Linked DNA regions of Homo sapiens. The protein of the gene in region 1 purifies or fractionates together with the protein of each later gene. This does not show direct contact. Each region holds a gene or a part of one and is shown on either strand. Other genes may lie near its edges.

Evidence for each region.
Region 2: the proteins of LUM (region 1) and ACAN purify together in Homo sapiens (co-purification; one study listed by BioGRID). This does not show direct contact.
Region 3: the proteins of LUM (region 1) and RMDN1 purify together in Homo sapiens (co-immunoprecipitation; one large-scale study listed by IntAct). This does not show direct contact.

The regions. Positions count from the first base shown.
Region 1 is NC_000012.12:91,105,159-91,108,498, reverse strand, and holds part of LUM (lumican precursor), read left to right. Parts: coding exon 1-381; intron 382-3,340.
Region 2 is NC_000015.10:88,855,364-88,859,020, reverse strand, and holds part of ACAN (aggrecan core protein isoform 3 precursor), read right to left. Parts: coding exon 1-3,657. UniProt on the Homo sapiens protein: This proteoglycan is a major component of extracellular matrix of cartilagenous tissues. A major function of this protein is to resist compression in cartilage. It binds avidly to hyaluronic acid via an N-terminal globular region.
Region 3 is NC_000008.11:86,474,650-86,477,725, reverse strand, and holds part of RMDN1 (regulator of microtubule dynamics protein 1), read left to right. Parts: intron 1-401; coding exon 402-432; intron 433-2,129; coding exon of another isoform or gene 2,130-2,191; exon of another isoform or gene 2,192-2,332; intron 2,333-2,772; coding exon 2,773-2,906; intron 2,907-3,076.

The DNA.
Region 1 (3,340 bases):
TGACCTTCATCCATCTCCAGCACAATCGGCTGAAAGAGGATGCTGTTTCAGCTGCTTTTAAAGGTCTTAAATCACTCGAATACCTTGACTTGAGCTTCAATCAGATAGCCAGACTGCCTTCTGGTCTCCCTGTCTCTCTTCTAACTCTCTACTTAGACAACAATAAGATCAGCAACATCCCTGATGAGTATTTCAAGCGTTTTAATGCATTGCAGTATCTGCGTTTATCTCACAACGAACTGGCTGATAGTGGAATACCTGGAAATTCTTTCAATGTGTCATCCCTGGTTGAGCTGGATCTGTCCTATAACAAGCTTAAAAACATACCAACTGTCAATGAAAACCTTGAAAACTATTACCTGGAGGTCAATCAACTTGAGAGTAAGTAAAAAGCTGTTCCTGTGTTTGATGTGTGCTCAAGTGTTTAAATACCTGGGCTGCACAACACAGATATTGCATCTGGCTCCATTAAAAAAACAAAATGTCGCCCGGGCGCTGTGGCTCATTCCTGTAAATCCAGCATTTTGGGAGGCCGAAGTGGGCGGATCACCAGGTCAGGAGTTGAGACCAGCCTGGCCAACATGATGAAACCCCATCTCTACTAAAAATACAAAAATTAGCCAGGCGTGGTGTCGCACTTCTGTAATCCCAGCTACTCAGGAGGCTGAGCCAGGAGAATTGCTTGAACCTGGGAGATAGAGGTTGCAGTGAGCCGAGATCGTGCCACTGTACTCAAGCCTGGGCAAGACAGCCAGATTCTGTCTTGGAAAAAAAAAAAATGTCCACAAAATATCCCTCTACTTCAAACAAAGAATAATTCTAGCTCAATCATATATCCAATATCCAGCCTTTCTTTGGTGTATCCAGATAAGGAACAATTAAGGTCACAGAATTTAATATGTAAGTCTTCAAACTAAAAATTCCGGGCCAACTCATCCTGCTGTGTTACCTCCTCATATATATCTCTTATTATTTTCTCCTTTATGGCTTAGATTTGTGTCCTACATTTATTTTTTGACAAGATCTAGATGAGGGAGGAAGAAATGAGTTCAAAAGTGGCACAGTTGGCAAACTCCATAGCCACAAAGAAGCCCATATTGTCCCTCCCTCCCTCCCTCTCTCTCTCTTTTTCTTTCTTCCTTCCTTTCTTTCCCTTTCTTTCTTTCTTTCTTTCTTTCTTTCTTTCTTTCTTTCTTTCTTTCTTTCTTTCTCTTTCTTTCTTTCTTTCTTTCTTTCTTTCTTTCTTTCTTTCTTTCTTTCCTTTCTTTCTTTCTTCTTTCTCTCTTTCTTTCTTTCTTTTTCTTTCCTTCTTTCTTTCTTTCGTTTTCTTTCTTTCTTTCTTTCTTTTTTTTTTTGACAGGGTCTCACTCTGTCGCCCAGACTGGAGTGAGGTGGTGCAATCTCGGCTCATTGCAACCTCCACCCCCCAGGCTCAGGCGATTCTCCCACCTCAGGCCACCACCACCACCAGGCTAATTTTTATGTTTTTAGTAGAGATGGGGTTTCACCATGTTAACCAGGCTGTTCTTAAAATCCTGACCTCAACTGATCCATCTGCCTTGGCCTCCCAAAGTACTGGGATTACAGGCGTGAGCCACTGTGCCTGGCCCCATATAGTCTCATGGTCTTCCCTGACATCAACTACTTGGGACTCACCATGTTACTCTGCTGTCATGATCATCATCTGCCTCTGTTATCTCTGTTATGGTGTGTGGCCATCACAGTGCTCTGGAGGACTGTGAAGAAGATTAAAGAGAAAAAGAAATATGATGGGAGATTCTAACATCTTTTTTTTTTTTTTTTTTTTTAGAAGAAAAATAGTGTTACAGAGCTTTTTTTTTCTTGGGTACAATCCTGCCCCTCATTTGATATTTCCACACTTTCTCTTTCTCCTCTCTTTATTTTTCATTTATCTTCTGGATGAAGTTTGATCTGATGCATTTGGACTGCTTATGCACTTATGTGGTCTTCAGGGACATTCTTCAACTTAAGCAGTATAGATTCCAATGGGAAATTGAAATCCACCATTTCCTACCAGGATAACTCTGCCATTAATCTTTGGCAGAGCTTGGTAGAAGAGAAAAACCATGATTCACAGATAAGGCTTTCTAAATGAAAAAATCAAGCAGGAAACATTGATTCACATATAAAGTAATAATGTCTGCAAAATAATCTATTGAATTTGAACATCTCTACATGATGAAAATTGGTTTTCTGGCCATGCTGAATAAAGGTATTGCTGTCAGAAAATATTACAATATATTTTATGCATATGATGTTTGTTAATTCTGCCAGTTTCATATAACCTCTAGTAGGGTTAAACGTTTTCATAAAGAAGACCATACTCGCCAACTCTGAAGCTCCACATGTTCTTTGTTGTTTCTGAAAAGCAGCCAAGGTAAGGGTTGGTGCTGTTTGACTGTCACACAATACACAGTCAGGCTAACACAGCTAAACCCCTCTTGTTGTTTCCAGTGGAAAATTCACTATGTGGCCATATGTGATTCCTCATTTTAAACATATGTGGTTAGGAGGAAGGATACTCTCTGACAGACCAAAATGCTAAAGGAATTTACGATGCTTAAGGGATGACGGAGTACATTAGATTTGGTGGGTAGAGATTATTCGTAAGAGCAGGGCTACTTCTTTCTCTGAAACAAAGAAGGATACAGAAGTAGGCACATTTGAAGGTATACATTGCATGAGTAAAGGATGGAAGAGAGGTCTATGGGAGAAAGGCCAACGGCCTGTCAGTGCCAAGCTGAGATAGAAACCACAGTGCCCAGTACATAGTGGTCATTTGAAAAGGTAACATAATAGTTTCCTTTCTTTCTTCCTTATCTTTGTACATTTAGTCAGGTATTCTCCTTGTCTTTTTATGTATCACCTCAGTTTAGGTTATTTTGCCAGATAATAATCAACTATATCAACATTTCACATTCACTTAATACAGAAAGTTCCCCTCAATGTTTTTTTCTAATATTAGGGAATATATAGCCAAAACAAACTGTTTTCTATTTCAAACTTGCAACTCTAAGCATTAGCCCAATCAGAGATCTTCCTAGTGTAGAGTAATTTAGAAAGACAGCAAAATCAAAAGGATATTAGTCATTATTTAGGACATACTATGTACTAGTATTGTGTGAAGTGCTCTACACAACTTAATTTAATCTTCATGCAACACGGTAAGATAGATGTGTTATTTCTAACAAGATCAGATAAGTGTTCCAGTGTTGCCCACCTGGGTAAGTGGCAGAGGTAGAATTCCAAGATGGGACTATGCCCATCTTCTTTCCATTTTTCCTCACTTTCTCAAATGTTGGTACCATAGAAAAATCCC
Region 2 (3,657 bases), on another chromosome or scaffold:
AGAGGATCTCTCAAGGTTAGCTTCGTGGAATGCAGAGGTGGTTTCACTCAGATCAGGGGACCCAGAATCTTCTCTGCTGGCCTCAGGGGCGGCAGATGCCCCGAACCCAGCTTCAGGATAGGCGGACGTCTCACTGCTAGATTCTGGGACTGATGATACTTCTACTCCAGACCCAGGGAGCACTGGGGTAGCTCCACTAATGTCCCCAGCTGTGGAGACTTTTCCACTGGACTCAAAAAGCTGGGGTGTGTGTGTCACAGGGGGCCTTTGGCCTAGTTCCTGAGAAATAGTTGGTTCAGTAACACCCTCCACGAACTCAGAAGTGATTAAAGTAACTTCTGGAAGTCCTGAGGCCTCTCCACTGGTGCCCATGGCTACAGAGGATTCTCCACTTACATTGGTGGTGCTGGCAAAATCCCCACTAAAATATGGAGTACCTGGTGGCTCTCCGCTGGGCTCTATCAGCCCGGACTGCAGCCCACTTAGGTCCAGAAATCCAGAATGCTCCCCAGACATGTCTGGTGCTCCAGAATGAGCACCACTGAGTTCTAAAATGCCAGAAGGCCCTTCTCCTGCCTCTTGGGCTGTTGGAGCCTGGGTTACAGATTCCACCAAAGTTCTGTCTACAAGAGAGACAGTGGGGAAACTAGATGGAGTTCCACTGCCATAATATGCTCCCGAGGGCAGGCTGCTCCCAATCTCAGCTCTGGAGGATTCTCCACTGACCTCAGCTATGCCACTTGGTAGGCCACTGAATTCCGGAGTCTGGGATGTAAACCCACTGGAATCGACTGTTCCAGAAAACTGTCCACTGACATCCACCATCCCAGATTTGCCTGACAGATCTGCCTCTCCGGAAGGGAGGCCACTGAGTTCCACAGACCCTAAGCCTTCTTCTTCTTTAAATGTAGTAGGGGCCACTTCAACCAAACTGGTGTCCACAAATGTAATCCCAGAAGATTCACCGCTGCCACTCGTGGTACCAGAAACCAGGTCAGGGACTCCTGATGTTGCCCCACTGAACCCTGGTAACCCTGAAGGCTGCCCACTGAGATCAGGGACCCCAGATGTTTCTCCACTCAGATCAGTTATGCCAAAGGGTTGACTAGTGCCATAAAGAACTCCAGATGCTTCTCCACTAATACCTGGTTGTCCAGAGGACAGCCCGCTAAGCTCAGTCACTCCAGATGTTTCCCCACTAGTGTCAGGAAACCCTGATGGCTGTCCACTGACACCAAAGAGTCCAGGTATTTCCCCACTGACATCAGGAGACCCAGATGCTTGGCCACTGAGTTCAGTTCCTGAAGGGAGTCCACTAGCTCTCCCACTAATGTCCAGCTCACTGGAGGGCAGTCCAGATATTTCTCCTGCACCACTGATGCCAATGGTTCCCCTCCCTTCCAGTTCACTTGCAGTGGAGGCTGTGACCACTTCCACCAATGTAGAATCCACTAGGGAAACAGTTGGGAATCCAGATGGAAGTCCACTAAAGTCAGGCAGGCCAGAGGGTGGGCCACTTCCAAGGTCCACCCCAGAATACTCACCACTAAATCCAGAGGGAAGACCACTTGTTTCTGGAGCTTGCCCACTTCCTAGAGTTCCAGAAGGCAGTTTGCCCAAGTCCAAGTCTCCAGAAGCTGACCCCACCAAGTCTTCTTTTCCAGAAGGCAACCCACTGAGGTCCTCAGCTCCAGAAGCTGAAGTCTCTAGACCCTCCCTTCCAGAAGGAAGCCCACTGAGGTCAGTCCCTACTTCAGAAGCAGAGGTCTCTAGACCTTCTCCTCCAGAAGGAAGTCCACTGAGGTCCCCAAATCCAGAGGCAGAAATCTCTAGAACTTCTTCTCCAGAAGGGAGCCTGCTGAGGTCCTCTACTCCAGAAGCAGAGGTCTCTAGACCTTCTCCTGAAGGAAGTTCACTGACATCCTCTATTCCAGAGGCAGAAGTCTCTACAACCTCTCCAGAAGGAAGCCCACTGATGTCCTCTACTCCAGAGACAGAAATCTCTAGAACTTCTCCTCCAGAAGGAAGTCCACTGAGGTCCCCTACCGCAGAGGTAGAAGTCTCTAGAACTTCTCCAGAAGGAAGCCCGCTGATCTCCTCTACTCCAGGGGCAGTAGTCTCTAGAACTTCTCCAGAAGGAAGCCCACTGATCTCATCTACTCCAGGGGCAGTAGTCTCTAGAACTTCTCCAGAAGGAAGCCCGCTGATCTCCTCTACTCCAGGGGCAGTAGTCTCTAGAACTTCTCCAGAAGGAAGCCCGCTGATGTCCTCTACTCCAGGGGCAGCAGTCTCTAGAACTTCTCCAGAAGGAAGCCCGCTGATGTCCTCTACTCCAGGGGCAGCAGTCTCTAGAACTTCTCCAGAAGGAAGCCCGCTGATGTCCTCTACTCCAGGGGCAGCAGTCTCTAGAACTTCTCCAGAAGGAAGCCCGCTGATGTCCTCTACTCCAGGGGCAGCAGTCTCTAGAACTTCTCCAGAAGGAAGCCCGCTGATGTCCTCTACTCCAGGGGCAGCAGTCTCTAGAACTTCTCCAGAAGGAAGCCCGCTGATGTCCTCTACTCCAGGGGCAGCAGTCTCTAGAACTTCTCCAGAAGGAAGCCCGCTGATGTCCTCTACTCCAGGGGCAGCAGTCTCTAGAACTTCTCCAGAAGGAAGCCCGCTGATGTCCTCTACTCCAGGGGCAGCAGTCTCTAGAACTTCTCCAGAAGGAAGCCCGCTGATGTCCTCTACTCCAGGGGCAGCAGTCTCTAGAACTTCTCCAGAAGGAAGCCCGCTGATGTCCTCTACTCCAGGGGCAGCGGTCTCTAGAACTTCTCCAGAAGGAAGCCCGCTGATGTCCTCTACTCCAGGGGCAGCGGTCTCTAGAACTTCTCCAGAAGGAAGCCCGCTGATGTCCTCTACTCCAGGGGCAGCGGTCTCTAGAACTTCTCCAGAAGGAAGCCCGCTGATGTCCTCTACTCCAGGGGCAGCGGTCTCTAGAACTTCTCCAGAAGGAAGCCCGCTGATGTCCTCTACTCCAGGGGCAGCGGTCTCTAGAACTTCTCCAGAAGGAAGCCCGCTGATGTCCTCTACTCCAGGGGCAGCGGTCTCTAGAACTTCTCCAGAAGGAAGCCCGCTGATGTCCTCTACTCCAGGGGCAGCGGTCTCTAGAACTTCTCCAGAAGGAAGCCCGCTGATGTCCTCTACTCCAGGGGCAGTGGTCTCTAGAACTTCTCCAGAAGGAAGCCCGCTGATGTCCTCTACTCCAGGGGCAGTGGTCTCTAGAACTTCTCCAGAAGGAAGCCCGCTGATGTCCTCTACTCCAGGGGCAGTGGTCTCTAGAACTTCTCCAGAAGGAAGCCCGCTGATGTCCTCTACTCCAGGGGCAGTGGTCTCTAGAACTTCTCCAGAAGGAAGCCCGCTGATGTCCTCTACTCCAGGGGCAGTGGTCTCTAGAACTTCTCCAGAAGGAAGCCCGCTGATGTCCTCTACTCCAGGGGCAGTGGTCTCTAGAACTTCTCCAGAAGGAAGCCCACTGAGGTCTCCTACTCCAGAGGCAGAGGTCTCTAGAACTTCTCCAGAAGGAAGTCCACTGAGATCCCCAACTCCAGAGGCAGAGCCCTCTAGGATCTCAGCTCCAGAGGGCAGTTCACCAACCGTAGGAGTGCTGGGCCACTC
Region 3 (3,076 bases), on another chromosome or scaffold:
ATGGACTCTTAAAAATTCACTAGTACAACGAATAAATTCAGCTTTTGATTATATTTTGTTTTTACTAAAAATCACTAGTTATGATTTAAGAGAACTGTCAAAATAGCTGAGTTACACGTGATAATGTTCTTTCCTTTCTGCACATGATGTTAGTTTGGTACAAGTTCTAAACAGCAACCAAGTTATTACCAGAAGTAGTCCATATATTGTAATCTTGATGATTGAAGTGTTACGTTCACTTTGGGTGTTAACTCTCACTGTTGAAGAAGTGACCATTATTTTAAGATGATTTACTTCCTGACTTAAATATAATATAGCAGTAGATCTTTGAGACAATGCTTTTTTAATATTGTCTTCTTTAATCTTTTTTATTATGTTTGGGCTCTTTGTGTTTTTGACAGGCCTTAGGCTACTTTCACAGGGCAGAACAAGGTAAGGTATTTTTGATTACACATATTAATATAGTTAAAATTGTATGAATGCTGAATATATACTATAATAGCAATGTCTAAAGCAGTTGTTTATTCTGTTATACTTATTTTTGTGCTAGATACTGTAAAACAATTTTTAAAGTCTTTATTCAGTAAAGATCACCTGAATGAGAAATAGGCTGCTATTGAACTTAGAGCTGCAGTTCTGGAATGTCTATCATTTGATGTAATTCTGCTTCCTTTGTGAGAGCAGTCTCTGACATGGTAATTGTCTTATTCAAGACTGCACATATTGGCCAGATGTGGTGGCTAACACTTGTAATCCCAGCACTTTGGAAGGCCAAGGCAGAAGGATCACTTGAACCCAGGAGTTTGAGACCAGCCTGGGCAACATAGCGAGACCTCATCTCTACCAAAAAATAAAAATAAAAATTAGCCAGGTGTGGTAGCACACACCTGTAGTCCCAGCTACTCAGGAGGCTGAGGCAGGAAGGTCACTTGAGCCCAGGAGTTCCAGGCTACAATGAGCTGTGATTGCACCACTGCACTACAGCCTGGGCCACAGAGTGAGACTTGTCTGAAAAAAACAAAAAAAGATTATGCATCTCATTAGAGGCATTTAAATGGGAATTCTGCTATTCAGCCAGGCTAGTTCTATTGCAGATATTGTGAAAAAGAGTTTCGGGTTATGTTTGTTTTGAAAAAATGACTAGTCCTATGAAACTGCCACCAGCCCATCCTAAATTTATCCTTTTTAATATTCATACACCAAGTGGGGGAGATAAGAGACATAAGCATATGATACCAAATAGACCATAAAAACCATTGAAATATATTCTATAAAACTTAATCAGGAGAAGACATACCATGTTTATTAAATTTGAGATCCCACACATAATGGACTTGTTCATTTCATGATAACAGTTATCTTCTACAGAATTTTATCTGAATGTTTTATCTCTGTAATTCATCAATTCTGATTTATTCATTATTACCTTCACTGATACCCTCTCTTGATCATACTGTTTCACATATCATGAATATGAATCTAGGGATGACTTTTTTTAACAGATTTAAAAGTTAATTACAAAGTAAAAATATAGGACCTTAGAGACTTAAGGGTTGGGGGTGTTGAGAAAAACATGGTCCTACCCTCATGGAGCTAAAATAATCCCTGGTAACTTCAGTCATTCTTGAGTGACCTTACCTTATTTCTTTCTGGCCTATATTCAGTTCAGAGGCTCCTCTGATGCCCTTAGTATCTTTTATTTTTCCAGTGATACTTATCACTCAATACTATGAACATTTACATGTGTAAGACTGTACATTCTGAGAAGATGTGGACTTTGTCTTTTCTGGCTCACAATTGCACACTCATTACTTGGCACAATGCTTGGCAAATCTGTTGAATGACTGAGTAAATAGATGAATGATCGGATGATTGAATATACGAATATATTTAACCCCAGGACAACTTAAGTATATCAACATGGCATCACACAAATCTGCTCAAATAAAAGAAGTAAAACAATTTTGGTTAAGGAGCAAATGGAGTTAATCATTAATTGTATACAGGAAAAAGTATGCTTTGAATACAGAGGATCTCAGATTGTTAGGGGGACACTTTGTGAAGAATTAAGTTGGTGAGATAATTCCATGTTTTCATTCATAGGCTTTCTGTTTATGCTTTTCTTTCAGCCAAGAATGTTCTCCACTTTTTTTTTTGGTTTCTTGTAGCAGTTCAAAGTTTGTATATCTAGTAAAGCATTCCTTTCATTTTTATATTACATTTAGTTGTGTTCATGTTTCTCTCTTCATTATAAAGTTGAAAAAAACAGAGGTTTTGTTTCATCCTCTATGTTTAAGTATAGCTGACATCCAGTAAATGTTGATCAAATATATATATGTCATCATCATTTCATTCACTTATTCAGCCGATGTACACTGAATGTATGTTATGTTTCACACACTGTTGTAGGCACGTGGGGTACCATAGGGAACTAAAGAGATTAAAAAGAGTATTGCTGTCCTCAAATAGCATACATTCTATCGGGAGCTTCAGCTTCTCATCTATAAAATGGAGATACCTACTTACAAAGTTGTGAAAATGAGAAATGTGTATAATGCAGTGCCTAGCACATTTGTAGATGTTTATTCATTGGTAATTATTATTTTACAAATATTTGTTTGAGATATAAACAGTTGAACAAAAGAGAATTCCCATTAGTCTAATCACTTATTGACCACACAAATTTATTGAAATTTAGACCTCAGAAACAAACCTTTAAAAATAAAAGCAACACTGTTTCCTCTGAGATCATTTTTTCTTTCTTATGTGCAGTGGATCCAAACTTCTACAGCAAAAACTTACTTCTTTTAGGAAAGACATACTTGAAACTACACAACAAAAAGCTTGCTGCTTTCTGGCTAATGAAAGCCAAGGACTATCCAGCACACACAGAGGAGGATAAACAGGTAAAACATCTCCCATAAAGTAAGGCAGAAAGGTTTTGAGGCACTATTAAATGGTGAATTAAGAACTTCTTTAAAAGCATAATTTTCTAAATGCATAATATTGTTGAAAACAAGTGTGTTCATTTCAAGTGTAAATTGATTGACATTTATATTTCTATATAGGAAATAAT